Regions from separate parts of the Homo sapiens genome. Here all the other regions are reported to be linked to region 4. Evidence: microRNA targets listed by miRTarBase, many of them from high-throughput screens and not tested one by one. Region 4 holds a microRNA gene; each other region holds the end of a gene's coding sequence.
What was found. The annotated mature microRNA hsa-miR-126-3p reads UCGUACCGUGAGUAAUAAUGCG and lies in region 4 at 2,504-2,525, opposite strand. An mRNA with a match to its seed (bases 2 to 7 or 8) in the 3' UTR can be bound and repressed. Matches are read on the target gene's strand: a 7mer-m8 pairs with bases 2 to 8, a 7mer-A1 pairs with bases 2 to 7 and ends in A, and an 8mer does both.

Region 1 (7,121 bases), not on the chromosome of region 4:
GGGATGTTTGCTTGCTTTTAAAGGGGTAACTTTATCAGCTGGGCTTTTCCTAGTTTTGTGAGGGGCTTTTTTTGTTTTTCTAAGTTTCTTTTGAGGCTGTTTGCTTGCTTTGGAGGGGATTTTGCTTGCTTAAATTGGCAGCCTTATGTGTTTTCCCCCAACAGTGAAAATACAATTTAAAAATTTTATTAACAAGATCAAATATTTACCATTGCAATATGAAGGCAAGTTCTACAGTTCAAAATTGCAACTTATCACTGGAAAGTGGCTGAGTGTCTACTATAAAATAACAAGCTCTCTGGAATATCCTCTTGAAATACACACCGTCTTCAGTCTTTTCAAACAAACATTAAAATGAATCCAATTCCATATCTCAGCAGATGAGCAAATCCCTGTTATGGCCAGCAATGGCAGAGTTTAAAACCTCCCACCCAGTTGAGAAAGTAAACTTTTAATACAAGAATTCTGTAAATTCAGATTTAAAATGTTGTATATATACAATTTATAGTGTTGCCATATTACCTGACCATTGACCCTGCAGGTAACTCACGTAGTGCTCCACCTACACGAGGGCCCCCGCCATCTTATGGTGGAAGCAGTCGCTATGATGATTACAGCAGCTCACGTGACGGATATGGTGGAAGTCGAGACAGTTACTCAAGCAGCCGAAGTGATCTCTACTCAAGTGGTCGTGATCGGGTTGGCAGACAAGAAAGAGGGCTTCCCCCTTCTATGGAAAGGGGGTACCCTCCTCCACGTGATTCCTACAGCAGTTCAAGCCGCGGAGCACCAAGAGGTGGTGGCCGTGGAGGAAGCCGATCTGATAGAGGGGGAGGCAGAAGCAGATACTAGAAACAAACAAAACTTTGGACCAAAATCCCAGTTCAAAGAAACAAAAAGTGGAAACTATTCTATCATAACTACCCAAGGACTACTAAAAGGAAAAATTGTGTTACTTTTTTTAAATTCCCTGTTAAGTTCCCCTCCATAATTTTTATGTTCTTGTGAGGAAAAAAGTAAAACATGTTTAATTTTATTTGACTTTCGCATTGCTTTTCAACAAGCAAATGTTAAATGTGTTAAGACTTGTACTAGTGTTGTAACTTTCCAAGTAAAAGTATCCCCTAAAGGCCACTTCCTATCTGATTTTTCCCAGCAAATGAGGCAGGCAATTCTAAGATCTTCCACAAAACATCTAGCCATCTAAAATGGAGAGATGAATCATTCTACCTATACAAACAAGCTAGCTATTAGAGGGTGGTTGGGGTATGCTACTCATAAGATTTCAGGGTGTCTTCCAACTGAAATCTCAATGTTCTCAGTACGAAAAACCTGAAATCACATGCCTATGTAAGGAAAGTGCTATTCACCCAGTAAACCCAAAAAAGCAAATGGATAATGCTGGCCATTTTGCCTTTCTGACATTTCCTTGGGAATCTGCAAGAACCTCCCCTTTCCCTTCCCCCAATAAGACCATTTAAGTGTGTGTTAAACAACTACAGAATACTAAATAAAAAGTTTGGCCAAAACCAACCATGAAGCTGCAAAGGTGCTTGCTCTTACTGTTTCAAATTTTTGCAACTCTGTAGTGTCTCACTTTTAAAGGAACAGCTTGATTGCAAAGGAGAAAATAGATAAGCAATGAAGTTATCTCCAACTTCCTAAAGGCTTATGACTTCTAAAAAGTGAATCTATCAGCATTCCACATCAGATTTAAAGCATCAAATGCCTGTGAAACAGCAAAGATGGTAAGCAAAGCAAACTAGTTTTTCCGTCTAAGTCGAAATTGAACACTTACCTTCCTCATAGTACAGTGAAACATACTGTACCTCAAGGCAATGGAAATGCCTTCTAGATTAAAAAAAACTTTTGGAAAAAAGAAATATTCAATAGCGTATTAGAAGTCCTCCAAATTCAACACTTGGATTTTTTTTTTTTTTTTTTAAAGCATGTGTGACACTTAAAGGCTTTATTAATAGAGCTGTTGTTTACCAATGGCGATCTGGGGCTTGGGAGGGGGTATTTTTTTCAAAGTCCATTTTTGATGAAGACCTTTAAACATGCTTCGTATGTTTTTAACATTTTTTTCAAATTAGTCTTTTAGTCAATATAGGAAATGGCTTAAGTTTGGGGTCCCCCTTTTTACCCCTGTAAGCCATTGCAAACTTGACATTTAGTTGGATGCCTGACTTGTTTTTAGTTCTATGAAACTACACTGTATGGAGAAAATCTATTGCAAGTGGTCTTTAAAAAGCAAAACCTGAGGCAGCATGACCCAGGTCCAGCCATGAAGTTGAAAAAGATGCTCTTGAATATAGTAAACTTGAAGACCTCCAACTAAAAATCCTTATACTGCACTTATTCCTTCAAATAAGTTTTGTTCGTTCAACTTATGGATTTAACGTGGCAGTGCACCATTGGAACAGAATGACAATCCATAAGCCATGCAACTTAACAATTTAAGCCATTCCAGTCCATCCCGAGCCAGTGAATCTTCCACCACTTAAGACAAATAGTAGAACATGAAATATATTAAGCTGCAAGTCTGAACTTGCCTTTTCTTTCTGGAAAAGAGGGCAGTAATAGGCAAGTTTTAAAAGAATTTCCTTAAGAGAGATAACTAGTTTTCATTTATTTAACTTTTGCAGGTTGGTGATTTTGCTCATTATGGTCGTGGAGTGCTGATTGATTCACAGTAGATAAAGCTGGCAGTAAGAAATGCTAAGGTAAGTGTTGAAAGCAATGGCCTTTGAAGGTTTAAATGTTGTGTAACTACCATTTAGTTTAGCTGTGACATTGGCAAGTTATTGTGGTCCTCACTTCATCTGTAAAAGAAAACGCTGCTTGGAATTGATGAAGTTAAGTGCTTTAATGTGTAGTGCCTGACACATTCATTGTGAATTTAGAGTGAGGTTACATTTCCGTGAGTCTGGCTCATTCATGAGATTATTCTTAGCTATTTTTGAACCCATAAAGCTTGCTTATAGCTCTTCATATGCAAGCATTCTCAACAAGGAAGTACACACGTAAGAAGTTTGCTCAGCTGGGCACCATGGCTCGTGCCTTTAATCCCAGGACTTTGGGAGGCCAAGGCGGGCAGACCATGAGGTCAGGAGTTCGAGACCAGTCTGGCAAACATGGTGAAACCTCATCTGTACTAGAAAAAAAAAAAAAAAAAAAAACACCGGGCGTGGTGGTGTGCGCCTGTAATCCCAGCTACTGGGGAGGCTGAGGCAGAATTGCTTGAACCCAGGAGGCAGAGGTTGCAGTGAGCCGAGATCACGCCATTGCACTCCAGCCTGGGCAACAGCAAGACCCTGTCTCAAGAAGAGGAAAAAAAAAATTTGCTCAGTGCATTTTGTAAAAGGATATACTTTCGTTGTTACTAGTTAGTGCTTGCTCATTTGCATAGCTACAATACAAATTGACTAAATGTGGAGTTAATGATGCAACTGTGGCTGCAAGCTCCCTGTTTAACATAATTTTATTGACATTGACATAATGACGACATAGTATGTAATTTCAATATTACCTTTTTTTTTTTTTTTTTGAGACGGAGTCTTGCTCTGTTGCCCAGGCTGGAGTGCAGTGGCGCGATCTCGGCTCACTGCAAGCTCTGCCTCCCGGGTTCACGCCATTCTCCTGTGCCTCAGCCTCCCCCAGTAGCTGGGACTACAGGTGCACACTGCCACGCCCGGCTGATTTTTTGTATTTTTAGTAGAGATGGGGTTTTACTGTGTTAGGATGGTCTCGATCTCCTGACCTTGTGATCTGCCTGCCTCGCCTCCCAAAGTGCTGGGATTATAGGCATGAGCCACCGCACCTGGCCGCCTATGGTTGATTTTTTAAGCTTGCGTGGTTTTTTTTTTTTCTTCTCTTCTGAGACAGTTTTGCACTTGTTGCCCAGGCTAGAGTGCAATGGTGTGATCTCAGCTCACTGCAACCTCTGCTTCCCAGGTTCAAGTGATTTTCCTGCCTCAGCTTTCCAAGTAGCTGGGATTACAGGTGCCTGCCACTATGTCGGTTATTATTATTATTATTATTTGTATTTTTAGTAGACAGGGTTTCACTGTTGGCCAGGCTGGTCTTGAACCCCTAACCTCAGGTGATCCGCCCGCCTCGACCTCCCAATGTGCTGAGATTATAGACGTGAGCCACTGCATGCGGCTTTCTTTTTTTTTCTTTTTTTCTTTTTCTTTTTTTTTTTTTGAGATGGCTTCTCAACTCACTGCCTCTCAGGTTCAAGCGATTCTCCTGCCTCAGACTCCCCAAGTAGCTGGGACTACGGGTGTGCACCACCGTGCCCGGCTAATCTTTGTACTTTTTGTAGAGACAGGGTTTCACTGTGTTGGCCAGGCTGGTCTCAAACTCCTGACCTTGAGTGATCTGCCTGTCTCGGCCTCCCAGTGTTGGGATTACAAGCGTGAGCCACTGCGCCTGCTTGCTTTTTAAAGCAGTTACTTTTATTTTCAGCTAAAGCAACAAAAAAGTATATATTTAAATGATAGTTTGGGGGGAAGTACTTTACAGTAAAACAAATACTATGTAACAGGATCCCATGTTTTTCATTTTACAGAGTTGTTGAAGCAGAAGGCGGCTGATTGTCAATAAGTCACTACAGTTGCATAAGCAGTGCTGTCAGAATTGGTTTGGTGCAGGCAATAGATTTTGCCTTCAGGGGTTCCTGTGGATCTGAGGAAGGCATCAGTGTTGATTAACACTCATAACTAGGGAGTGACTGGTAGTTACTTAAAGCAAGTAATTGACCAAATGGAAAAGGGGAAGTAATTAAGGAAATTGGTAAGTGGAGGTAGTCAGGAAGTTCTTGTGGTTCTTCACATAGATTTTACAGCTTTGGCTTTCATTTTGTTTAGCTAAAGTCATGGGGACAACTCTTCAATTTAGAACTTAAGTTGAATTATAAAAATGATGGATATAAGTGGTAGCTGTATCTAGTGAAGTGTCTGTCAGTAAGTGAAACATTTTTTGGTGGTGGCTTATCCACAAACAGTTTAGTTGTAGAATAAAACTTATGAGTGACATCTGGAAAGTAACCATGCTAAGATGGCAAGCACACTGGAAACAATTAGGCCACTTGGCTTTCTTTTGCTGTATTGTTTTATAAGCCTACTTTACCTCCCAGTCTTGGAAACAAGTTTTAGTTTTTTATTGGTTTGGAGACTAGAGCCAATAGTATAATGTTCTCAAAGGAAACAGACTTGAGTTGTTGGATTAGAGGAACTAACCCAACTTATATGATTTTTTTTTTGTTTTTGTCGTGTAGTTATGGCACTGTCTTATTTGGAACATTTGCAACTAGGGATAATACAACATTTTTAACTCTCATTTGACAACCTACTACTAATCACAGACCACAAGGGTAATGACCAAATTTATGTGGTTTTTGCACTCCATAGTTGTCTTAGCCCAATCTTTCTATACTCTTACGATTACTTGGGTTAACGCTTCTGTGAGGACCTTCTGGCTCTTGAGATACCCTAAATATTTAAGATATTTAGATATCTTGAAGATAGTATAGGATATAGAGATTGTACCAAATAGGAATATAAGGAGTATGTTAAAATGACCAGATACCTGTTTGATAGTTTACTGACCTAGCAGATGTGTGGAAAAGGAATCAGATCTTGATTCTTCTGGGTTTATACTGGTTGTAAAACAGAATGATACAGAAAATGTTTTCCTTGTTTAACTGGTAGTTGAACATAGAACTTGGGTATTATAGATCACTTTTCACTTTTTGGAATGTTTTGTATTGAAACTTAATAAAACTTTAACATGGCATCTTTTTTTGTGGCAAGGGGCTCTTCTTTACTTAGAAATTAGGGGTTTATGTTTTTAAATGTTTTTCCCATGTCCCCCTCCCCCAAACACTACCTCTGTTGCATTGATGGCACTTAATCAGTTTTGCATGGGAATGTCCAGAGTCATTGAGGCTGTTTTTGTGACTAGGCCTCCTTTATTGAGAGTGAGCTTCAGGGGGAATGTAGATGACTTCATTCAGTCCTCACCCTAAAAGTTAAATGGAAGCACAATCACACACCTAAGAAGCAGAGGCTAAATAAACCAGGAGTCAACTGTAGTGCTTTTATGTAATTCCTGCTTACCTCTTGGGGAAAAACAGGTCAGCAACAACTCAGTTGTGGCTGTGGATTCCAAATACTTTGGGTCAAGCAATGCATGTGATAATATGCTTCTGAATTTGCAGTTTTCAGTTTCTCTGCTTTACCTAGTGTCCTGTATATATCTGACTAGTTGATGTTCGTTTGTGTCTAAAACTGGGCATTGCATTTGGGTTATGTAGTCAGTTGAACAGAACTCAGCACATGGAGAAAGAATGCAGCTAAGCATTAAGATGGCAGAGAAAGCCCTAAGTATTGTCATTCTGTAAATAATCTCAGCTCTACACCTGTTTTTTTGGGGGGGTTTATTAATGAGATGGAGTCTCACCATGTCCCCCAGGCTGGAGTGCAGTGGCACCATCTCGGATCGCTGCAACCTCCGCCTCCCGGGTTCAAACGATTGTCCTACCTCAGCCTCCCAAGTAGCTGGGATTACGGGCGTGCGCCACCACACCCAGCTAATTTTTGTGTTTTAGTAGAGATGGGGTTGTCATCATGTTGGCCAGCCTGGTCTTGAACCTCCTGAACTCAAGTGATCTGCCCACCTTGGCCTCCCAAAGTGCTGGGATTACAGGTGTGAGCTACAACGCGCAGCCAGTTCTATACCTATTGTTCCAGGAAAACATCTCTCTACTCATCCCGTCAATACTTTATGTTGCACATGTCAGTATACTTCCTGAAAAGTAACTTGAACTTTTGTATCAATTAGTTCAACTTTAATCAATTTTTAAGATAACATTTAAATCTGAAATACTCAAGTATTAAGGGTACTGTTTTATGAACTGAGAAATGTATACTCTATCAATGATGGATAATTACCATCATCTCAAAGTACTTGAGTTTTAGCCGTGTATACATCAGTAGTTCCATGTTGCCGAGTATGGTATGCTTTCCCATTCATGGAAACCTGGGCCTTTTCTGGTTTTTGGCTTTCATGCATAAAGTTGCTATAAATGTTCTCACAGTAGCTTTTGTTTTTGT
Region 2 (7,121 bases), not on the chromosome of region 4:
TGCCATCACTATATGACTTTCATAGGAAGTTTCCTTCCAGAGGAAACTACTATTCTCTCAATTAGAAATGCTGGTAGAACCTTGAAATCCTCAATGTCGCATCAACTCTTTTAAAATAACATTTAACACTAGGCTTTTTCTTTAATTCCAGAAAACTTACCAAGTAATTCTGGAGAGAATTCAAAAATAAAAGTATATTCAAAAGTTCACTACCAACCACAAAATTCTAACATGCAAAGTAGAAGCAAAAAGCATCTTTATATCCCTAAATTCCAAAGCACAAAGTTGGATGTCAGAAGACAACCTTTTACTGTTGGCCTGTAACATAACCAACATGCTTGGTTCTGAGTATTTAGAAGGATCCAGGAGGTCCCAGCTGGAATGACTGATCAAGAATCTAAGAAAGGCTGGGTGCAGTGGCTCATGCCTATAATCGCAGCATTTTGGGAGGCCAAGGCAGGTGGATACCCTGAGGTCAGGAGTTCGAGACCAGCCTGGCCAACATGGTGAAACCCCATCTCTACTAAAAATACAAAAATTAGCCGGGCATCGTGGTGTGTGACTGTAGTTCCAACTACTCAGGAGGCTGAGGCAAGAGAACTGCTTGAACCCAGGAGGCGGAGGTTGAAGTGAACTGAGATCATGCCACTGCACTCCAGCCTGGGCAACAGAGTGAGATTCCGTCTCAAAAAGAAAAAAAAAGGGAAAAAAAAAGCATCTAAGAAAAACATAGGCAAAGGTTAAGGATCTAGGCATTCTGGGAAAGAGCAATTAGTACGTGGCCCCTGTGATTTGGGAAGCTACTCAGAGACCAAAACAACAACAAAAACCCAAACAAACTAAAGAACCTGCTATTATTATAAACTGATATCACAGCCAGGTGTGGCGACCCATGCCTGTAATCTCAGCACGTTGGGAGGCCAAGGCAAGAAGATTGCTTGAGGCCAAGAGTTCCAGACCATCCTGGGCAAAATAGTGAAACCTGTCTCCTCAAAAAAAAAAAAAAAAAAAAATTAGCTGGGCATGGAGATGCACACCTGTAGTCTCAGCTATTCAGGGGGCTAAAGCAGGAAGATTACTTGAGTATTTAGAAGGATCCAGGAGGTCCCAGCTGGAATGACTGATCAAGAATCTAAGAAAGGCTGGGTGCAGTGGCTCATGCCTATAATCCCAGCATTTTGGGAGGCCAAGGAAGGTGGATACCCTGAGGTCAGGAGTTCGAGACCAGCCTGGCCAACATGGTGAAACCCCGTCTCTACTAAGGATGTTGAGGCTACAGTGAGCTATGATCATGCCACTGCACTCCAGCCTGGGTCCTGGGTGACAGAGTGAGACTCTGTCTTAAAAAAAAAATAAAAAGGCTGGGAGTGGTGGCTCACGCCTGTAATCCCGACACTTTCGGAGGCCAAGGTGGGTGGATCACTTGAGGTCAGGAGTTCCAGACCAGACTGGCCAACGTGGTGAAACCCCATCTCTACCAAAAACATAAAAAATTAGCTGGGTGTGGTGGCGCGTGCCTGTAATCCTAGCTACTCGAGAGGCTGAGGCAGGAGAATCGCTTGAATCCAGGAGGCGGAGGTTGCAGTGAGCCAAGGTGGTCCCACTACACTCCAGCCTGGGAAACAGAGCAAGACCCCATCTCAAAAAAAGAAAAGAAAAGAGAAAAATAAATAAAAATTAAAAAATAAACTGATATCCCTAAAAGACATCTCTTATATTCCCAGTGGACAAATTTACAGAAAATTAAACCTGAAAGGCGTAAAAGAAACAACCACTGCTGTAGCCATTTCATTGTGCTTCAGAGCAACAAAGTTAAAAGAGGTTTTTCTAAAGATACAGTTTTAAGCAGAAGTTGGCTGAAATTCAAGGTTCTCTAGTGAGAGAGGTCCCTCTGTTATCATTGTCCCTCAGGTCTTTCCTAATATTCAAAATTGGGCTTCCTGAGCAACCCAAGACCTGCCATCTCTTGCCATATCTAAAAGGTAAATTTTCTCATTTTATCCCAGGGACAAAAGAAACTTAAAATAAGATAACTTTAATGTGAGATCCTTCCCATAAGCAGAAAATACAAGCAATTAACAACATCAACAACAACAACAAACCCACAATACTTTCTAGGATTTGAGGCCAGAAAAGTAGAGTTGGTTGGTATCAACACTGTTCTTCCCTTCAGGGCTTCAGGGTTTATTTCCATTCTTAAGCTATTTAATGAGTACAAACTATTTGAAAACATCTCGAGGCAGCTTTTGCTTTCCCAACCATTTCACCCTGTCCTTCTACCTTAAGCCCTGATGAAGAGATTTCAAAAACTCCCTTTGAGTGTGTTAGAAAAGCTTAGAAACTGACTTTACGATTACAACTCAAAAATGTTTACAAGATCTTTAGATAATAGTGTATGCGCAGAAAGATGAGGAAACCTCTGACCAAGAAGTCTAGACACAGATTAAGGGCCCAGGAGGGCAGAGCCAGTCCTTAAACAATATAGACACCATGTCTCCTGTGTTTACAGGGATAGCTCATAGGTACAGCCATCAGGGTTGGATTGCCTCCAAAAGTAGGCCCTACAAACTCCCGTAGGCCAGGGCCTGGCAGTATACCCCATTCTCACCACCATCCTTTGAAGAAAGTTCTAAGAGTTAAGGTTATCCCACAGGCTACTAGGTAGATTTCCAAATGGCCTCAGGGAAAGTGGAATTCTGCCAACAGTAAAGGCAACTCCCCAAACAGTGCTAATGCTGAGAGGATCAAGGGAAGGACTTTGATATACACATATATGTATGGATAAAAGAGTTAAGCTACGTAACATGAAACACCAAAAATATACTTGCTGGTACATCAAGAGTTCCTCACAAACACTCTGAAGTTAAAATCTAAAATGCTCCACTTTTTACCCAAAATATAAATGACTCAACCTCATTTTGTATTATATACTAACACAGAAATGAGTTTTTTAAAAAGGTTGGCTGCTATCTATCTAAAGCAAACAGTTTATGTTTTACACATAAAAAAATTTATTTGCATAAAAGTTTTTATGGAACTAAAAAATATGTTCTCTACAACACCAAGGCTCATTAAAATATTTTAAATATTAATATACATTTCTTCTGTCAGAAATACATAAAACTTTATTATATCAGTATTAAACAAAAAAACCCTATTGACATACATATAAAACGTTTTACAAGCAGAATAACCTACATATTCAAAACACTTTCAACAAATTTTTCATTTTTATTTTTCAGGGTATTTTATATATATATATATATATATATTGTTTATTATTATACTTTAAGTTTTAGGGTACATGTGCACAATGTGCAGGTTAGTTACATATGTATACATGTGCCGTGCTGGTGTGCTGCACCCATTAACTCGTCATTTAGCATTAGGTATATCTCCTAATGCTATCCCTCCCCCCTCCCCCCACCCCACAACAGTCCCCAGAGTGTGATGTTCCCCTTCCTGTGTCCATGTGTTCTCATTGTTCAATTCCCATCTATGAGTGAGAACATGCGGTGTTTGGTTTTTTGTTCTTGCGATAGTTTACTGAGAATGATGATTTCCAATTTCATCCATGTCCCTACAAAGGACATGAACTCATCATTTTTTATGGCTGCATAGTATTCCATGGTGTATATGTGCCACATTTTCTTAATCCAGTCTATCGTTGTTGGACATTTGGGTTGGTTCCAAGTCTTTACTATTGTGAATAGTGCCACAATAAACATACGTGTGCATGTGTCTTTATAGCAGCATGATTTATAGTCCCTTGGGTATATACCCAGTAATGGGATGGCTGGGTCAAATGGTATTTCTAGTTCCAGATCCCTGAGGAATCGCCACACTGACTTCCACAATGGTTGAACTAGTTTACAGTCCCACCAACAGTGTAAAAGTGTTCCTATTTCTCCACATCCTCTCCAGCACCTGTTGTTTCCTTTTCAGGGTATTGTACAGACTCAAATGGATTGAGGACTGCTTCAATTAGGACAATCATTTTTTGTAATTCAATGTTTACAACTTAGTATGTATGCAATCGTACTACTGACAAAATACAGAATGATAATATTTTCCATCTCTTAGTAATCTTGTAATGGAACAGAAAAATATCCTGTGTTTGCATTTCTTGCAGGAATCAGCTGTTATAAAGAAACATTAGGGCTTGTTTCTTCTGTCATTGATATCTGAATGCTTTTAATATACTCATCCTAAGAGTTGAATAATGGCCTACTCTGTTTACCTGGGATGTGCTACTTCTTAAACATGAGCTGATGAAGTGTAGCCTTTCAAATTAATGGATGAGGTAGCTCAATCAATGTAATCATCAATGCTTGAAGTGAGGGGAAAAGGAAGAAAACAGAAACATTTTTCCTATCAACCAAAATGCACATCCTTCTCACCCATCCATCATACAGCTTTGGAGAGCTAAGAGGAAAGAAGACATACACAGTAGAAGATGAATCCTGAGAGAGCAAATCAGAGAGAATGGATGAAAATGCCTCACCTAAATGTGGTTCAGTACTCAAAGTTCTGCAGTCAGGTCGCCACATTTTCATTTACAATTTCTATTTTCTAACTTTCTAAATTATAAGAATAATTTCGATAGATACCACAAAACACATATATACAGGATATACCACAGCACTGGGCATCAACTTAAAATACTCATGAGGTGAATGTAAGGCACTTTCGCGGTTTACAAAAGTGAATGCCTCAAAGTTAGATATTTATCAAAAATGGAAAAATATCCCTATACAAGTTTATAGGAGCCCTGAAAAATCAAGTACGTATGAATCATTACCAATCTTGGCCAACATTTTGAGAGCCTTAGTGTGACTAAAGATCAGAGATATAATAGATAAATAACTTTTTTAAATTGGAGTTCTATACATCAGTGTCAGGATTCTAAAACTGCTCTCATAAAAATCTGTCTCTTCTAAGTTATTTCAGTTCTCAGCCACAGAGATTGAAGAACAGGACAACCACTCAGTGTACCACTGTTTAGATTTCATGATGATACCATACCACATCAGTTACAAAGAGACTGGAAATAATAAAGGCTTTGAGTTTGTTTTGTTATTTCCTACAAATATTATAATTAAGATAGAAACTTATTCAAACTACTCAAAAATGTAAATTTTATGTATTTTCTTGAAATCATGAATTTTTAATTTCCAAATACAAATATTGTTGCTCTAAATAATGTGAGTTTTGTGACTCTTCAAAATTAAAAGAATGTAACCTACAATATAATGTATTTTCTTGTCTATGAGAGACCAAACGAGCTTAGGTAGCGTAATGCTAAAAAATTGATTTAAGGAAATAATCTATTTTTATGCCATCTTTCTCCAAAACTCTTAAAAAGCCAAATCTTCTCTAGGTCATGGTTGGTAAGGACAGGTCATTAACAAAGTCAGGGATTCAGGGCTGAGCATGATGGCTCGCACCTGTAATCCCAGCATTTTGGGAGGCTGAGGCAGGTGGATCACCTGAGGTCAGGAATTCGAGACCAGCCTGGCCAACATGGCAAAACCCCGTCTCTACTAAAAATACAAAAAATTAGCCAGGCATGGTGGTGGGCGCCTGTAATCCCAGCTACTCAGGAGGTTGAGGCAAGAGAATCGCTGGAACCCGGGAGGCAGAGGTTGCAGTGAGCCAAGATCGTACCATTGCACTCAAGCCTGGGCAACAAGAGTGAAACTCCGTCTGAAAAAAAAAATAAATAAAAGTCAGGGATTCGGACAGATAAAACTGTACCTTGCCTCTTTATTCGCAAAGTAAATAAGCATGGAATTTATTTTTTGTTGTTGTTTTTATTTTTTGAGTCAGGGACTCACTTTGTTGCCCAGGCTGGGGTATAGTGGCATGAACACAGCTCACTGTAGCCTTGATCTCCCGGGCTCAAGCGATCCTCCTGCCTCAGCCCCCAAGTAGCTGGGACTACAGGCACACACCATCATGCCCAGCTAATTTTTGTATTTTTTGTAGAGATGGGGTTTCATTCACTATGTTGCCCAGGCTGGATTTTTTTTTTTTTTTTTTTTTTTTTTGAGACAAGATCTTGCTCTATCATCCAGCCTGGAATGCAGTGTCATGAACATAAGCTCACTGCAGCCTAGACCTCCTGGGCTCAAGTGATCCTCTCACCTCAGCCTACTGAGGAGCTGGAACTACAGAGGCACCAGACCCAGCTAACTTTGTGTAGAAACAGGGTTTTGCCATGTTGCCCAGGCTGTTCTCAAACTCCTGGGCTACAATCTACCTGCCTTGGCTTCCCAAAGTGCTGGCCACGGCCCCCAGCCTAACATTTTGAAAATTATTATTATTATTATTTTCTTGCTCTGTCACCCAGGCTGGAGTGCAGTGGTGCAATCTCAGCTCTCAGCTCACCTCCGTCTGCTCGGTTCAATTGATTCTCCTGCCTCAGCCTCCTGAGTAGCTGAGATTACAGGCATGCGCCACCATGCCTGGCTAATTTTTGTAGAAAATTATTATTTCTATGTTACATCATTTTAACAATGCAGTGGTTATCTTTGACCTAAAAACTAAAGTTTAAAAACCATTTTTTAAATTAAAGAATGCAATTAGTACATTCTTGTTGCTGACATGAAGATTACAGTGCATACCTAGCTCCTTTCATTATTTATAATTCAAATCTTTGTTGTACTTCATCTGCAATCATTCCAGAAATTGCAATGGAAGAAGTAGCAGCAGGAGAAGGTGCATTTCTCACATGAAGAATGCGATTTCCAATATCCCCAACTCCTGCATCAAATACAAAATCTTCTACCAGATTTCCATCTCTATCCAGGGCCTGGGCTCTTACTCCAGCTGGGCCCCTGCAAAAGTAAAAGATGGGAGTCAGCTGACTCAAAGACATAGGATACTTTACAAGTCAGCGTTTCCAAAAAGTCTTAAAGCAATAAAGTATTCTTCTAAATGCACAATTATATGGAAACCCAATGAGTTTATGTTTAACCAAAGGCTGTCAGTTGTAGCCTGTCAAACCTATATTGTTAGCTTAGAGCCTAAAACCTATTACGTAACAATAGTGTAACAAACGCTTATCAAAGAAATACATAAAAACAAGTAAGTTATTTATCAATGTCTGCTCTTTCCAA
Region 3 (7,121 bases), not on the chromosome of region 4:
TGCTTTTGAAGTCTTTGGATTATCACTCTGGTTAAATGAATGGCTATTATTTCACAGTGACCTGCGATCCTGTTTTGATCAAGTATTTTGAACTTTTTGGCATCTTTGGCAGGCTTCTCCAGGATCAACATTCTAAATTAAATCTTTTTGACCTAGAATTAACTTCAGGATTTTCCATGTGGGCCACTGGAGAGCCTCAAAGGATGTATCTTTCATCTTGTAGAGATATTAAGTGACTAGGCTTGTTTGTACGGGAAGTATTGTCAAATGATAAGTGATGCTAGGTTTTCTTTCAGTTACATTTATGGGTATGTTATTGATATGAATGTCCCCAACTGTACAAAACTCTTAGAAATCTAATATCTTATTGGCCATAATTCTGGTTATTATATTGTATGCCATAAAATAACCAAATTTCCTTGTCAATTGCTGATTGTAATGAATCAAAGTCAGATTCTTAACCATGGCTATTTTAAGTCTCTGTCATTCACAATTATTGTTTTGATTTTTCTCCAAAAGCATTTGCAATTAGTTTCATGAAAAATACTCTAACAACTACTCTTAAATACAGGTTTCTAATAACTGTAAGATCAATGGACTACATAAAAAATTTTCAAAAATTTAATGAAGAAACTGATGGGTTCATAAAACAGATAAGATCAAGCAAAACAAAAATTAATTACATGAGATTAAGTAACTGATGAAGATGTTTTTATGTTTATTTGAAACATTATTGGTTCTTAAATGTTTTATTTTCCAGATTGAAGGAACTTTTTTTTTCTTAGTTATCCATAGTTTACAGAAATTTGGTAAAGTGTACTCGTGTGAACAAAGATGGAAGCAATTGCTTTTCTACCTACTTGATGCCTCCAAAATGTGGGAACTATTCATGGTTATTTGCATAAATTCAGTAAAAATCTGCTTTCTATAACTGGATACAATGAAAATACTGGTTATATTACCAAGGCTTTGAGTGAAATAGATTGGAGAATATGCATAGAATACCTGACTTCAAGGGTTCTCAGCCTTACGGTGAATAAAAACTCACTTCCTGGCAGGCTCAGGAGCCTTAGGACTGTAGGTAACATCTAAAGTCTTCCTTAGTTTGGTTTCCTAGCCTCAAGAGGTTTTTAAATCTGAGATTCCTGTGTGATCAACATAGGCAGAAATAGTTATATTTATAAAGAAAAAGCTATAATACATCTGCTATTAGATTATAGCTCTGTGCATTGTTTTCAGGTTCTTATTTACCTATAGAGTAGACTAGATCCTGAATTCTTTTATATTCCTTTAATCCAACTTTCTTCCATGGAATTACTAAAAACAGGAACTGCTCTGTTCCTAAATCTCTATAAGCTGAAATGATAAATTTTAAGGAACAAGTCTTGTGCCTGATGTATGAGCCACACAAAGAGTTCACCAAACTGCCTAATGCCATAACCAGAGACATTCAAACTGCAAACAGGATAAGAAATTGACATTTTCATGCTGTAGACAGCTTTTCCCAAGATATTGGCACAAGACTCTATATCATAACAAGACCCTGACCTCCCTTACTGCTACCTTTTTCACTTGGCTGGATAATGGTGTAAATTTCTTAATCAGTAGCTTCTGCCAGTAACTAGACAGAAACTAATCTAAAAGATTCCTTAGCCCACTTATTGGGTGACTTTGGCAACATCCTTAATACAATTGGTGCTCACCTTTTGCTTTAATTCAACCCAGTCATGGGATACTAGATGATAAATAGCTCTATATTATTTACTGGCTAAATAAGAAAATTTCTGTGCTATTGCAAATATTGCATGCTGTACCCGGATAAATCCCTCTGGGAAAGTTGAAACCCATATAAGCAAAATAAAAACATAGCCACATGGTTACAACAGGTCTTACCTAATTCCCTATGGTCATTTGTTTCATTCAAATAGTTGTCTTTAAGCCTAGATTCACAGCTCAAAACCATTATGCAAACAGGGATTTTCAAATTACTATTATTTCCTTTTTAAAGTTTGCACTATTACTTGTTAAATTTTTGCAGAAGTAGAACTCCTAACAGAACAATGCTGGCCCAGCACTTTGAGATAACAGCAAACGACTATGGAACAGAAAAAATTGAACTTAATAATGGACTCCAGGTAGACTTAGCCTGAGATCCACTCCCTTCAAACCTCCCTTGTTGCTCAAACGTGGATAATAGGGTTTTGACACGGACTCCTAGCCACCATTCACTTTCTCTAACATAGGACCAGATCAGCAACCCAGGACGGGCCCATCCTGGCATCAGGAGCTATCAACACCTGAATACAGGATGATTGGTCAGTGATGCTTTTGGAGAAATATCTTGATCAAAAGGGGGAAATGTGAAACTTGTCAGAAACATAATGGAGTCACTTGTGTTAATAAAACTCTGACAAATAGAGCCAGAGAAGGCCATGAAGAAAGGTTTCTCATGCATAAATGCCCAGTAACAAAAACCATCACAAAAGACTCTGCAAAAACCACAACCTTGTACAATGGCCATTGCAACCTTACACACAAAAAATACTTCTGTGAGAATATCCGCCCAGCAAACACCTGTTCAACCTCAGACTGGCGTTATGCTTGCTGTCGATCCTTGTAGCCAAGGATAATTATCTCAAAATAATTTGTAATCCTTCTTTAAAAACCTCCTCCTTCCTTTACCTCCCTGAATATGCAGGTAGTTCATATGCAGTGGGAACACTGTGGCACGTGTATTCCCATTGCAATGCCTATTCCTGAATATCATTTTCTTTTAGAAACCTTCTCTCTGTTTACTATTTAGGTTGACAACAAGTTTGCTTTCAGTAAAGTGCTGGGGACAAAGACCTGTCTCTCAGAAAGTAAAGTCATTAGAGAAACAGAGTAGGTTGCTGGGCAGTTGGGGGTTAACTTGATGTCTGAGGTTATAAATTTAAAGATCTGTCAGAGGAGTTGTGTGTTTTTCATGAGCCATATTGAGCACTCAGGTACAGGCAAAACACAGAGAGCTGTCTTTATCCAGAGTTTGTATTCTGTCCTGCCAGCATGAGAGAGGCAGTTGCAGATGTATGGACTGATGAACCAAGCAATGTAAGCTGGATAATGAGAGGAGTGAAGAAATGAGGAGAGTATTTGACAGTCAAAAAGTAGTAAAGCAATGCATTGGAGGTCTAGATATGGTCAAAGCCCAATTTATTATAATTCATAAATATCATATGTATACATAAATTACCCCAGTCTCTTCTGGGAGATTTCCACACTGGCTTGATGTTCTCTAGTTCATCAAGAAGTAAGCATAACAAGACTGGATAATTATTTCTTAAATTTTATTCTTTATTTGAGTTTAAAACAATTCGAAGATGGCAGAACCCCGTTATAAATGGGTACACTATACCATAGATATAAGGCAAGGAATCCCAATTACTGATTTTTTTGAATGGCCTTTATTTGGCTATATCATTGATAGTCTATGGTGTGGAATTTTTGGACACCTACCAGAACACATATTACCATAAGTTTCCATTTTATCAGGTTCTAAGAAACTTTATTTTTGAAAGAAAAAAATGGACAAGAAAGAAAAATGTTTCTAAAAGTGTTATCTGTGTATAAATAAAGTGGCTGATAAATTAGTGAAAAGGAAGAAGTTTGGAAAGCAGAAGTTTTTATGTTGTATAAAAAGAAATACAGTGAATTCACATTACTTAAGACTGATAATAGATTATTGTTGTGGGTAAATGAGTCATTTTATCTGTTGCATACTTACGTGAAGGCTTTCAAAAGGTCAGTAATAATTTAAAGGAATCTACATCCCTTTTATAATCGGCGAATTGGTGACTAATGTTTTTATTTTTTTCTCCTGTTACATGCCTTTTAGACATTTGGTTGCTCTAACCAAGGTTGGGTAGCAAAAGAGAAAGGAGACAGAACTCTATCAGTCATTGTATTTATTTACCAGCATTTATGGCAAATGGCCAGACCTGGGCAGGGTGGTAGCAATGATAGATTTTACAAATTAAGGCATTGTTCTTTATTTCAAAATTTTCATTTACCTATATTTTCCTTGGTCTTAGAAATATGAATAATTTAGAGCTGGCAATACTCACCATCAGGATATAATAAACGGAGGTTTCTTTGTCTGAAATCCATAAAATGTAGTAATACTCTATTGTACTTTTAAAAATCCTATTTTTGCAGTTGGCTTCCTCTCAGTGAATTAGTTAGGTAGTTTTGGTACATTTGGAGGGTCATAAACATGTCATAGAAAGAGTACTGGCATTATGAAAACCTGGATGTTAGGGACTTCACAATTTGGTCATTTTGCAGCTGTACAACCTTAGAAATGTAAGTTCTCTGAATTTCGGTTTCCTCTGCTGTAAAATAGAGATAGGAATATCCATCTGATATATTTCACAGGTACTACTGTGAGTATTAAATGATATTGTGTGTTTGTGCACTGGAATGTGTAATATAATAAAGTTGTTGATTAATGCTTTAAAAATGTAGCTTGCCCTGTATATTTTTTAAAAATCAAAATAGAAATCATTGGGAAATGTAAATGTTTATGAATCTTACAGCTCAAATGCAAATAATTTACAAATGCTTTATAATAAAATCAAAGATATTCATGGATTTTTTTAAGTAAAAAATCTTTGCAGCTAAATATTCATCAACTTAAACTTATTCTTTCTTTTATAAGAATGTTCACTATGTAACATTATAACTCTCCAAAGGAGAAATTCTATAATTAGTTCAGTTCTCTGCCTTAAAAGTTTTATTATAAGGCAGAAGAATGGAATAATTGAAGTTTAAAAATAAGCAAAAATATATAACTCTAAACCACAGTCCCCTCATTTAAAAGAGCTTAACAAGAATACTTTCTGCAATATATTTATAAACAACCTAATATTTATATAATAACACAAAGTTACAACTTAAATCATGATGATCAAAGTTAATGTGCATTTTGATACCCTTATCAGCTTAAATTATTAAATATCTAACGGTCTTGAGAGATTGAATTTTAAAAAATGAACCACATGTACTTTAAAAATGGTTACCTATTCAATAACTAAGGTGTTGGTCAAGTGTTTAGAATATAGGCCAGAGTTTTAGAAAAATTATTTGAGAAATATAGTATATATGATTGGGTCCCACGTAGAAATAAGCCTGTACAAATGGATATGTTTAAGCATGAACAATAATTGAGGTAACCCACCAACTTCTTTTTTAAAAGCGTAAGTCAACGGGCTTCTTTAAAAGAGCAAATGAATCACTTGCTCATTTTAAATCTCCTATCTTGATTATATTAAATAGTACTACTTTTTAAAATAAGAAATTATTAATTATTAATTAGAGTGTAGGTAACAAATTAGCTGGGCGTTGTGGCGCATTCCTGTAATCCCAGCTACTCGGGAGGCTGAGGCAGGAGAATCACTTGAATCCAGGAGGTGGAGGTAGCAGTGAGCCGAGATCACACCACTGCATTCCAGCCTGGGCGACAGAGCAAGACTCTGTCTCAAAAAAAAAAAAAAAAAAAAAAAAAAAGAATATAGGTAACAAATAGTAAATTCTGGTCAGCAGCAAAATTTTTGGACCCAATGACAAAAACATGTTAATAGAATGTGTTTAAGAATAACTCTATATTGCTGATATTCCAACAGCACTATGATCTTTGCTATCAGCAATCCAAGATTTAGTTCTTCATCAAAAGTCTCTCTCTCTCACACACACACACACACACATTCTCGTACCGTCTTGTCTCTACAAATGCATCTCAGGTTATATTCTGTTTTTGAAGATTACATTTTTTAAAACACATCAACATTTTTCCAACAAATCAATCATCAAAAAATGACTCACTGCTTTCATTAACAATCTCTCAAGATCACTCAATGTTTAAAGATTAGCCTGACAAGAACTTGCAGAGCTGAAATTGAATTGGCATCAGAACAGGATAATTTTAGATGGAGGTAAAAGTGAGTTTATCTTATGCTCAGCAAAACATATTTAGGTCAGTTTAAATATGAGCAACTGGTAAATTTATCCTCAGCTAGCATAGAGGTGGGCATTGTTAATACGATTCAAAGCTTGGTTGGGCACTCTTCGTTTTATAGTATGCCTGGGATACAGCACATCTGTGAGACAAGAAAGGCTAAACTAGAGCTCTGCTTCTTCTAATCCTGCATTACAAATTTAATAATAAAGTACATTTCTGCTATGTTTGTGGTTTTAAAATTATTCACTGTAAACATCCTATATTCTTTCCTAATTAATTTCAGAGCTGGAACTTATATCTATGTCTATGTCAAATTATCATTTATTCTATGAAAAGCAGCACGAATACTCTTCATTCTGGTTTTGACACAAATTCCTTAAAAAAAAATTAAGGCCATTTAATTGAATCAGGGCCAACTGAAGATTACCCTGGCAAAAGTCAAACTACTGATTTAAGAGTTTTGAAAAAGAGCCATAAGTGGTTGTCGTGTATTTTCTTCCTTGGTAACTTGAGAGCAGTTTGTAGAATTTATTAGTCTCCAACATCTCCATCTCGATCTCCAATAAGCCAAAGAAAATGAAAACTTAAGGCTAACAGAGCTGTCCCGAGCAGATCACCCAATGCTGTTAGGTAGGGGATGGAGAAACTATCCGGGTCCTTTCCTTTCCTCCAGAAGTGATGGACCATCCAGTCAGCAATCCACAGCAAGGTAAATACCTAGAAGAGAACAACAGAGATTACTCCGGCTGCCTGGACATTCCTAGCCCATGAAACATGGCCACAAGCCTAAACCACTGGCTTCTGGAAGGGACCGTATGTGTCTAAGTCAAGAACCATGCTTGAAAATAAGAAATACTTAGATGACAAGAATACTTTCATTTCACAAGAAAAAAAACAGCATGTATGTTTACAGGTACTAAAATTTTTCTTCAACTTTTCATATAGATCTCATTCTAGCCTCCCAATAGCCATAATAATTTGGATATTTTAATAGCACTGTACAGTTTCCAAAAGACTGTTTTTCTATGTGATAAACCTGTGAAAAAGGAAGACATTATGAAGAAGGAAATAAAAATTTAAATAAGGAATTATTTAACAGTCTCCTGCTGCAGGTATATCAAATAAA
Region 4 (7,121 bases):
TGCTGTTTTTTTATAAACACACTCTTGGAAGTGGCTGGGGAGCTGTGGTCACTCACAGGGCGGGCAGGTGACCAGGGCGGTGGAGGCGACGCTGTGTCTTCCCAGCTGCCCTGCCTAGAGGCCCAGGGTGCAGGCACCGCCACCCACCCGTGTTCCCTATCCAGGAGTGGACCCACATCACCCTATACTACTTCCATCGATGGGTGGGGGTGTCGCCTAACGGGCAAGTGTGCCGGGATCCTCAGGCTACTGGGAAGGAGGCCAGAGATTTGCTCTTTGGCCTCTGGTTGGGGCCAACATGTCCCCAGGACAAAGCTCTCTGTGGCCTCACAGAAACCACCTGCCCACCCCCTCTGCCTTGGACCCCCTCCCCACCCCACGACTGCCCGCTCCACCAGGCCCCCTTTGCCAGCTGGCACCCAGCAGTGGGTCTGGGAGGGGTGGCCAGGAGGTGAGCGCCCTCCTCCCAGGCCCCCAGTCCATCCACTGACACAGCAGCTCACGTTTCATTTTTATTGTGCTGGGGGTCAGGCAGCAGCCCCCACTGAGGCCCCACCCAGCCTCCGGGCTGCCTGGCCTGTGCCATGGGTCCCAGGCTCCAGCAGGGAGCTCGTACCTTCCCTCAGCTGAGGGCCCACCTGGCCTTGGGATGCCGTTGGGGTAGCCAGGGTGGGGGTAGCCAGGGGTGGATTCACAGAGAAGATCCCAGCCCATCCCATGCCAGGGTCTGGGGAGCCTCCCGAGGAAGGGGAGGAGGAAGAGGAGGAAGGCCCTGCCTGGCCTTCCGCTCAGTCACCCCGAGGTGGTTTCTGGACCCCCAGCATGTTGGGCAGGGGCATGGGGGCTGCAGGGCGGCGTGAGGGGCTCAGTCCAGCCTGGGGCGCTGGGCAGTCACGAGTCTTTCTTGCAGGAGCCTAGGGTTGGATGAGGCGAAGGTCAGAGATCACTGCTCCCCACAGCCTCCCCGCCCAGCTAGATCTGACTGGCCCCTTGGCCTTTGGTCGCCCCCGACCCCCAAGCCTGGGTAGCCCCTCTAGGCCCACTGGGCCCAGACCCGGGAGGAGGGCTCTGGAGGGTGGGGGCACTCACAGGACCCCAGCTGCTCCTCCAGGAAGGAAATCTGCTCGCTCAGGGAGTCGATGCGGCCGAGCTGCTGGAAGGAGTGCACCAGGAGGCTGCCGGGGTCCGGGAGCCCATGCTCCAGTGCCTGCGAGGCCAGGCTGTGCAGTGGGGCCAGCACCAGCTGCAGCTTCTGTGGGTGCAGAAGGGCAGTGACCCTGGGCCGGCCCCCGCCCTCTCTGCTCCACCGGGGTCTAGGGAGGACCCCTGGGAAGGGCTCCACAAGCCTCCAGCCCCCGCCTCCGCGGCAGGGCTCCAAGTGTCCACTAGAGGGGGCTGCCGTGGCAGAAAAGCTTGCCGCAGAGTGGGTGCCTGGGGCATCAGGCTGGCGGGGTGGTCCCAGCCTTGGGGTCCCTGGCAGGAGAACTAGGGGGACAGCTGGACCACTGGCCAGTGGGAAGACTGGCAAGAGCTCTTTGTCCTGGTGGGGACAAAGATGGGGGGGTGGGGAGGTCTCGTCTGGGTCCAGGCTCTGTGTATTGTCTGGGGGGCTGTCAAGCTTGGTTCCTCCGGCCCTGGGGGGTCCTGGTCAGTGTCCAGCTGCTTCTGCCCAGCATGGATCCAGGCCAGGGCCCCCTCGGCAGTCAGCAGCGAGGAAGCCACCTCCCCAGGGCCAGGACCTTTTCAGACCACCCCCAGCCATCCGTGGGTCGGGACCATGTCCCAGGAGACTACGGAGCCTGTACCCGGGCCTGGGCCTCTGCTGTTGTGAAGACCTGCCCCCTGCCGACGTCTCACCTCCTCCAGCAGGTCCACCCTGGACTGCCTGCCTCCCCCCCCGACGCCTCATCTCCTCCAGCAGGTCCACCCTGGACTGCCTGCCCCCCCGACGCCTCACCTCCTCCAGCAGGTCCACCCTGGACTGCCTGCCCCCCCGACGCCTCACCTCCTCCAGCAGGTCCACCCTGGACTGCCTGCCTACCCCCCCGATGCCTCACCTCCTCCAGCAGGTTCACCCTGGACTGCCTGCCCCTCCACACCTCACCTCCTCCAGCAGGTCCACCCTGGACTGCCTGCCCCCCCCCCCCCCCACCAATGCCTCACCTCCTCCAGCAGGTCCACCCTGGACTGCAGCCTCTGCACTTCTTCCTTCATTGCACTGTCCACTCCTGCGGGCAGAGCCAGGCGCTGGGTCACGGCCGGCCGGCTCCCCACCCACACCCCCAGGCTCCCTCCTGTCCCCAGGGAGAGGCAGAGCCAGAAGACTCAGGCCCAGGCCTCTGCCGCCCCCGCTGCCTGCCTGGCGCTGGCCAGAGGTCTCAGGGCTATGCCGCCTAAGTACGTCGGGGCGGGTGGCTCTGCGCAGAGGCTCAGGGTCCCGGCCACGCTGAGGGAGGTCAAGGCTGAGGTCTCAGCGGCGTTTTCGATGCGGTGCCGTGGACGGCGCATTATTACTCACGGTACGAGTTTGAAGTGTCACAGCGCGTACCAAAAGTAATAATGTCCCGTCGCCAGCGGAGGCGTGGCGTCTTCCAGAATGCTGCGCTGGATGCAGACAGGACCCCGGGACGGGGCACTTCTGCCTTCTTGGCTGATATGAGGCTCCGGGCAACCTGCCCCCAGTTCTCGGGAACCCACCTATCCTCCCTCCCCATCCTCCCTCCCTGGAGAGGGAGTCCCCACCGCCTTCCGCCCAGATTCCAGTGCCCCCCACCATGCCTAACAGCCACACGGCAATGTCCACTGCCTGCCCGCCTCCCCAGGCCAGGCACAGCCAGGGCTGTTTACCTGTCGGGTTGGGGGCCACCCTGGGGGGCCCTCCCTTGGGCACACAGAGTGTACCGTCTGCAGACAGGCTGTGCCCCTCCCAACACTGGCACCAGTAACTGCCGGCGGTGTTGACGCAGCGCTGGGGACAGCCGCCCCTCCTAGCACTGCATTCATCCACATCTGCAGGAAACGGGGTGTCAGGCGGCCATGCCTGCGGGAGGGGTCCTGCCCACACAGCTCCCTTCACAACCACCCACTCATGGGCCAGCAGTAACCCCAGGACATGCAAGGAGGTGCCCAGGACCCTTCCAGGGCCCCCCAGGGTAGAGCCAGCCTCACCTGACTGGCAAGTGTCACCCCGCCATCCTGCAGGGCAGCGGCAGCGGCCAGGCTGGACACAGCTCCCTCCGTTCCGGCATGGCGGCTGGCATATTGCTGTGGGCGGGGGAGGCTGGTCACCAGCTCAGTTGGGTCCCCAGCACCCTGTGGGGGCAGCTGCTAGGGAGTGGGTGCTCTGCGGCAAGGTGGTGCTTTGCTCGGGGTTCAAGAAAAGCAGCAGGAGCGTTGCTGGAAGATTGGGGAACAGTCGCCCTCCTAACACCGGGCGCCGAGGGACATAGCCCTCACCTGCTCCACAGGCCCCAGGAAGCCCGCTGGTCCTCTTCCAGCCGGGGCAGCACGCGTAGCGAGGCCTGGCAGGGGCCAGCCCAGGGCTGCGGCGGTAGGCGGTCCTATAGATGGTTCTGTGGGGTGGGTGGGACAGCTCAGAGGGGCATCCTACTCCCCCTTAGTCACCTGCTGGGCATCTAGAGTCCCCTCTCAGAGTGCACAGGGTCACCCCAGCATGCCCCCAAGGGTCTTCTCCTCAAGGGATGGCACTGAGGGGTCACTGCACAGCCGTTTCCCTGCCTGGGCCTTCCGGTGCTGGCCGGGACTCAAGCCACAGCAGGAAGGCCCAGCCACACTCCGCATGGAGCAGAGGCAGTGGCCAGGCCTGTGTGTGCCCCCACCTATCTGGTCTCCTACTGTGGGGGCATCCAGGCCCAGAGGAGAGGGTGTGCCCGGCCTACGGCGAGTCACGGCAGAGTGTGGGCCCTGGGCATCGGAGCCCTTCTTAAACCTCCAGAAGTCTGAATTCCCAGGCCCCTCCCCCAGCAGGGGGTGGAGCTCCCACACCCAGGAAGGAGGACTCTGAGACTTAGGGGTGTGTGCCCCTTGTGTGGGCATACAGGACATTTCAGGGTCTCATCTGTGCCCACTGGGGGCCGTCATGTGGAGGGGGGTGCCCAGTGGAGTGGGACCAGGGGAGTCAGGCACCATTCTGTGTATATGGGAACTTGCAGCCAGGGATGCCAGGGTAGGGAGGGGTTAGTCCCCCGGAAGTGGAGGGGTGCAGACAGGATGGGTGACCCCTCTAAACATGGGGATGCTCTTAGAGGTGCGGTCCTTTGAGACGTGTCGGGGCAAGAGCAAGGATTAGGACACTGGAGGTGATCGTGGAACCCCTTGGCTCCGGCCGCCCTGGGTCGCCCATCTCAGGCAGCCCTCTCATGGCTCTGGCCTCAGTTTCCCATCTTGGGTCCCAGGATTCACCCCCGCCTCGCCCCTGACATGCTGATGTGTGGCCGACTTGGGAGGCTGGGGCTGGGTGAGCTCGGTGTGGTGGGGCACTCACCGGTAGGTGCTGCAGGCCCGGTGCCCGTCGCAGGTGGTGAGGAAGGGCTGGTACACACGCTGCACGAACGACTCGGAGACAGGGTCCCCGTGAGCCCGGACAGCACACACCCTACGGCTGCGGGGGTGGAGAGGGGGTCAGCCCAGGAGTCCCAGAGCAGGACCCAAGAATGATGGGAACATGTGGCCGGGGCAGGACCCTCAGCAGGAGCCCCCAGGGAGTCCCCGACAGGTGCTGAGGGCCGCCTCTAGGAGGTGCTGAGGGCTCCCGGTCCCCCCACCCCAGCACTCCCAGGCTAGGGCTTGGCTCACCCGGGCCGGTAGGCGTGCTCTGTGCCGCCCACTGCCAACACCAGAAGCCACATCAGCAGCACCTCCTGAGAGCCCCTCATGGCCTGTGCCTCCAGGCGGGGTGGCCTTCTCCTCTGGGTGGCCTGGGGCACAAAGCATGACCCCTAAGTCTCCCCGCAGATGCCCCCAGGACGCGGGTGCAGTTTGCACTTGCTCCGCGAGGCCTGCCCAGCTCATCTCCGCTGGAGCCTCCACCGGTGGGACAGCCCCACGGTGGCGCCCACTCTCTCCTCCGCTGGCCCCCTCTTCCAGCTAGCCAGACCCTCGCCAGGCACAAACAGCTGGGGCCACAGCCTGGGGGCACAGGGGGGGTGACGCTGTCCAGAGCTCTTGGTGCAGGAATCGAGTGGATCCTGCTGGGCATCTGCCCGAGGCTCCGGGAAGGATGGCTCCAGCTACGGGTGGCCGTTTCTCCTGTCCTGCCTGGTTCCAGGGCCCTCCTCACAGCAGGGCAGGGGTGAGTTTGCACCCCAGTCTATGCAAACGGGGTGTTCGTGGGCAGAGCTGGGATCCAGCCCCACCAGGGACCTGCCGGCCTCAGCCCTTCTGGAATTTGATTTCTCATCTGAGTGTGGAACCGGCCCCAGCAGGTGGGCCAGCAGCTGCAAGCCAGCAGGAACCGTGCGGAGGGTGCACACATTCTAAGACCACCAGAGGGGCGGCCTTCATTTTAGAGGGGGTCCTTCCCAGGCTGGGATATGTGTGCAATCAGCCTCCAGGGATCCTGGGACAGTGGCTGTGCCAGGTGCACACCTGGGGGTGAGGAGCAGCCCCCGACAGTGTCACCGGAACCGGAATCCAACCCCCTCCTGGCTGTGCAGCAGGAGCCAGGGGCCCGGGTGAGGCTTCCTGAGAGCATGAGAGCCCAGAATTAATGGTCTGTGGCAATGCCGGGGATGGGGATTCTGTCCTATGCGCAGCCAGGGGTCTGGAGACCTGGCGAGCCCCTGCCATGCTGCAGGGTCCCACCCAGGGCCTCTCACGGGTGCTTCCCAAAGGCTGGGTGGGTTCCTTCCGAGGCACTGCAGGGCCCTCCGCAGGGAAAGGCCAGGCTTCGGGTCGGGGCAGAGGCTGGGGTAAGGCTGTCCCTTCTCTGGGATTCAGTTTCCTCACACACTAGAATAGGGTCTCTGAGGCCCCTCCTCAGCTCTGACAGCCAGTCCTATAAATAGTCACACTGTCCTCAGTCGCTGCTGGCCAGCCCCACTGGGTGTGGAGCACGATCCCACACCTGCTTCCCACGGGCACTGCCAAGGCATCACCCGGTCCCAGCGGGGAGGGTGGCTGGGGGTCCTTCCTGGGCCTCCAGTCCTCTGTGCGCTGGAGAGAGGAGGGCAGGGCAGAGGCTGCCAACTAGGCAGAGGCTGCCCTGGGCAGCTGAGGGGTGGGGACTTAGCTTGGGGGCAGGGGGGGCATCACAGCAGTTTTTGGGCAGGAGTTTGTCGAGGGGGCAGAGCTGGCTGGAGATTAACTCTGGGGATGGGCCCTGGATGAAGGACACTGTTAGGGGCTGGGTCTGGTGCGACCTCAAGGCAAGACTCGAAGTCGGGGGACATTGGGGAGTGGGACCCGGGAAGGAAGAGGTAGGGCAGCGGCCCGGCGGCTTGATGTGGGCAGGGGGATGCCAGGGCGGGCCTGGGGGTAGGCGAATCTCCCAGACCTCATTGCCCCCCACACATATTGGCACAGCTCCCCCCCACAATTCCTGAGAGTCGCCTGGACAGGAAGCGGTGCTAAGTGGAGACTCAATTTTTGAAAGTCATGTTTTCCCGAGGCCAGAGGAAGCCCGTGGTGCTCTCCGAGCCGGTGCTGCAAGCCCCATTTCCCCGGGGGGGGCCACGGCCTCGACCCAGGGGTGCCGGGCGGGGAGGGGGCGGCGGCGCCAGGTGGACCAGCAGTCCGGTCCCCGTGCCCCCAGCGCCCACGGGCTCCCTCCCCACCTGCCCGGCAGCAGCCCCGCAGCCCCCACCCGCGAGAGGCCGGGTCCGCAGAGGGAGGGGCCTGGCTGCGCCGCAGGCACTGGCGGACCCCTCGCGGCGGGAGCAGGGCTGGGGACCGCGGGGCCCACGAGGGAGGGCGCAGAGGCGGAGCGAGACGGACCTGCCCGCCGCCCCCTCCCAGCCGCGCTGCTGGCTCCGGGGTTCGCGGGGGGCGGAGCAGGCGGCACAGGCTGGGCCCCGAGGCGCTGAGTCGCGCCGGGTCGGACGAGGGGCCGCGGCGACCCCGGCCCTCCCCGCCGCGCCGCCCGCCCGCCCGCCGCCGGCAGG

Region 1: miRTarBase lists RBMX as a target of hsa-miR-126-3p. The part of its 3' UTR that is shown has no 7-base or 8-base seed match.
Region 2: the mRNA of L2HGDH is a reported target of hsa-miR-126-3p. Seed matches in the 3' UTR shown: 7mer-A1 at 5,662-5,668.
Region 3: the mRNA of SLC41A2 is a reported target of hsa-miR-126-3p. Seed matches in the 3' UTR shown: 8mer at 5,745-5,752.

What each region holds. Positions count from the first base shown.
Region 1 is chrX:136,867,873-136,874,993 of GRCh38, reverse strand. RBMX (RNA binding motif protein X-linked) reads left to right here. Exons shown (of 9, transcript NM_002139.4): 9 at 542-1,533. The coding sequence ends at 852. Among named protein-coding and RNA genes, the nearest start is that of SNORD61, 7.8 kb to the left of the region's middle. RefSeq lists an enhancer at 1-986.
Region 2 is chr14:50,240,415-50,247,535 of GRCh38, forward strand. It overlaps L2HGDH (L-2-hydroxyglutarate dehydrogenase), which reads right to left. Exons shown (of 10, transcript NM_024884.3): 10 at 2,020-6,839. The coding sequence ends at 6,644. Among named protein-coding and RNA genes, the nearest start is that of SOS2, 12 kb to the left of the region's middle.
Region 3 is chr12:104,798,626-104,805,746 of GRCh38, forward strand. It overlaps SLC41A2 (solute carrier family 41 member 2), which reads right to left. Exons shown (of 11, transcript NM_001352171.3): 11 at 3,176-6,712. The coding sequence ends at 6,527. Among named protein-coding and RNA genes, the nearest start is that of SLC41A2, 160 kb to the right of the region's middle.
Region 4 is chr9:136,666,057-136,673,177 of GRCh38, reverse strand. It overlaps MIR126 (microRNA 126), which reads right to left and starts at 2,576; the gene lies at 2,492-2,576. It overlaps EGFL7 (EGF like domain multiple 7), which reads right to left. Exons shown (of 11, transcript NM_016215.5): 4 at 4,816-4,937; 5 at 4,505-4,621; 6 at 3,457-3,572; 7 at 3,169-3,264; 8 at 2,848-3,009; 9 at 2,164-2,228; 10 at 1,090-1,252; 11 at 500-914. The coding sequence starts at 4,895. The coding sequence ends at 892. AGPAT2 (1-acylglycerol-3-phosphate O-acyltransferase 2) reads left to right here. Exons shown (of 6, transcript NM_006412.4): 6 at 1-35. RefSeq lists enhancers at 2,744-3,243, 3,244-3,745.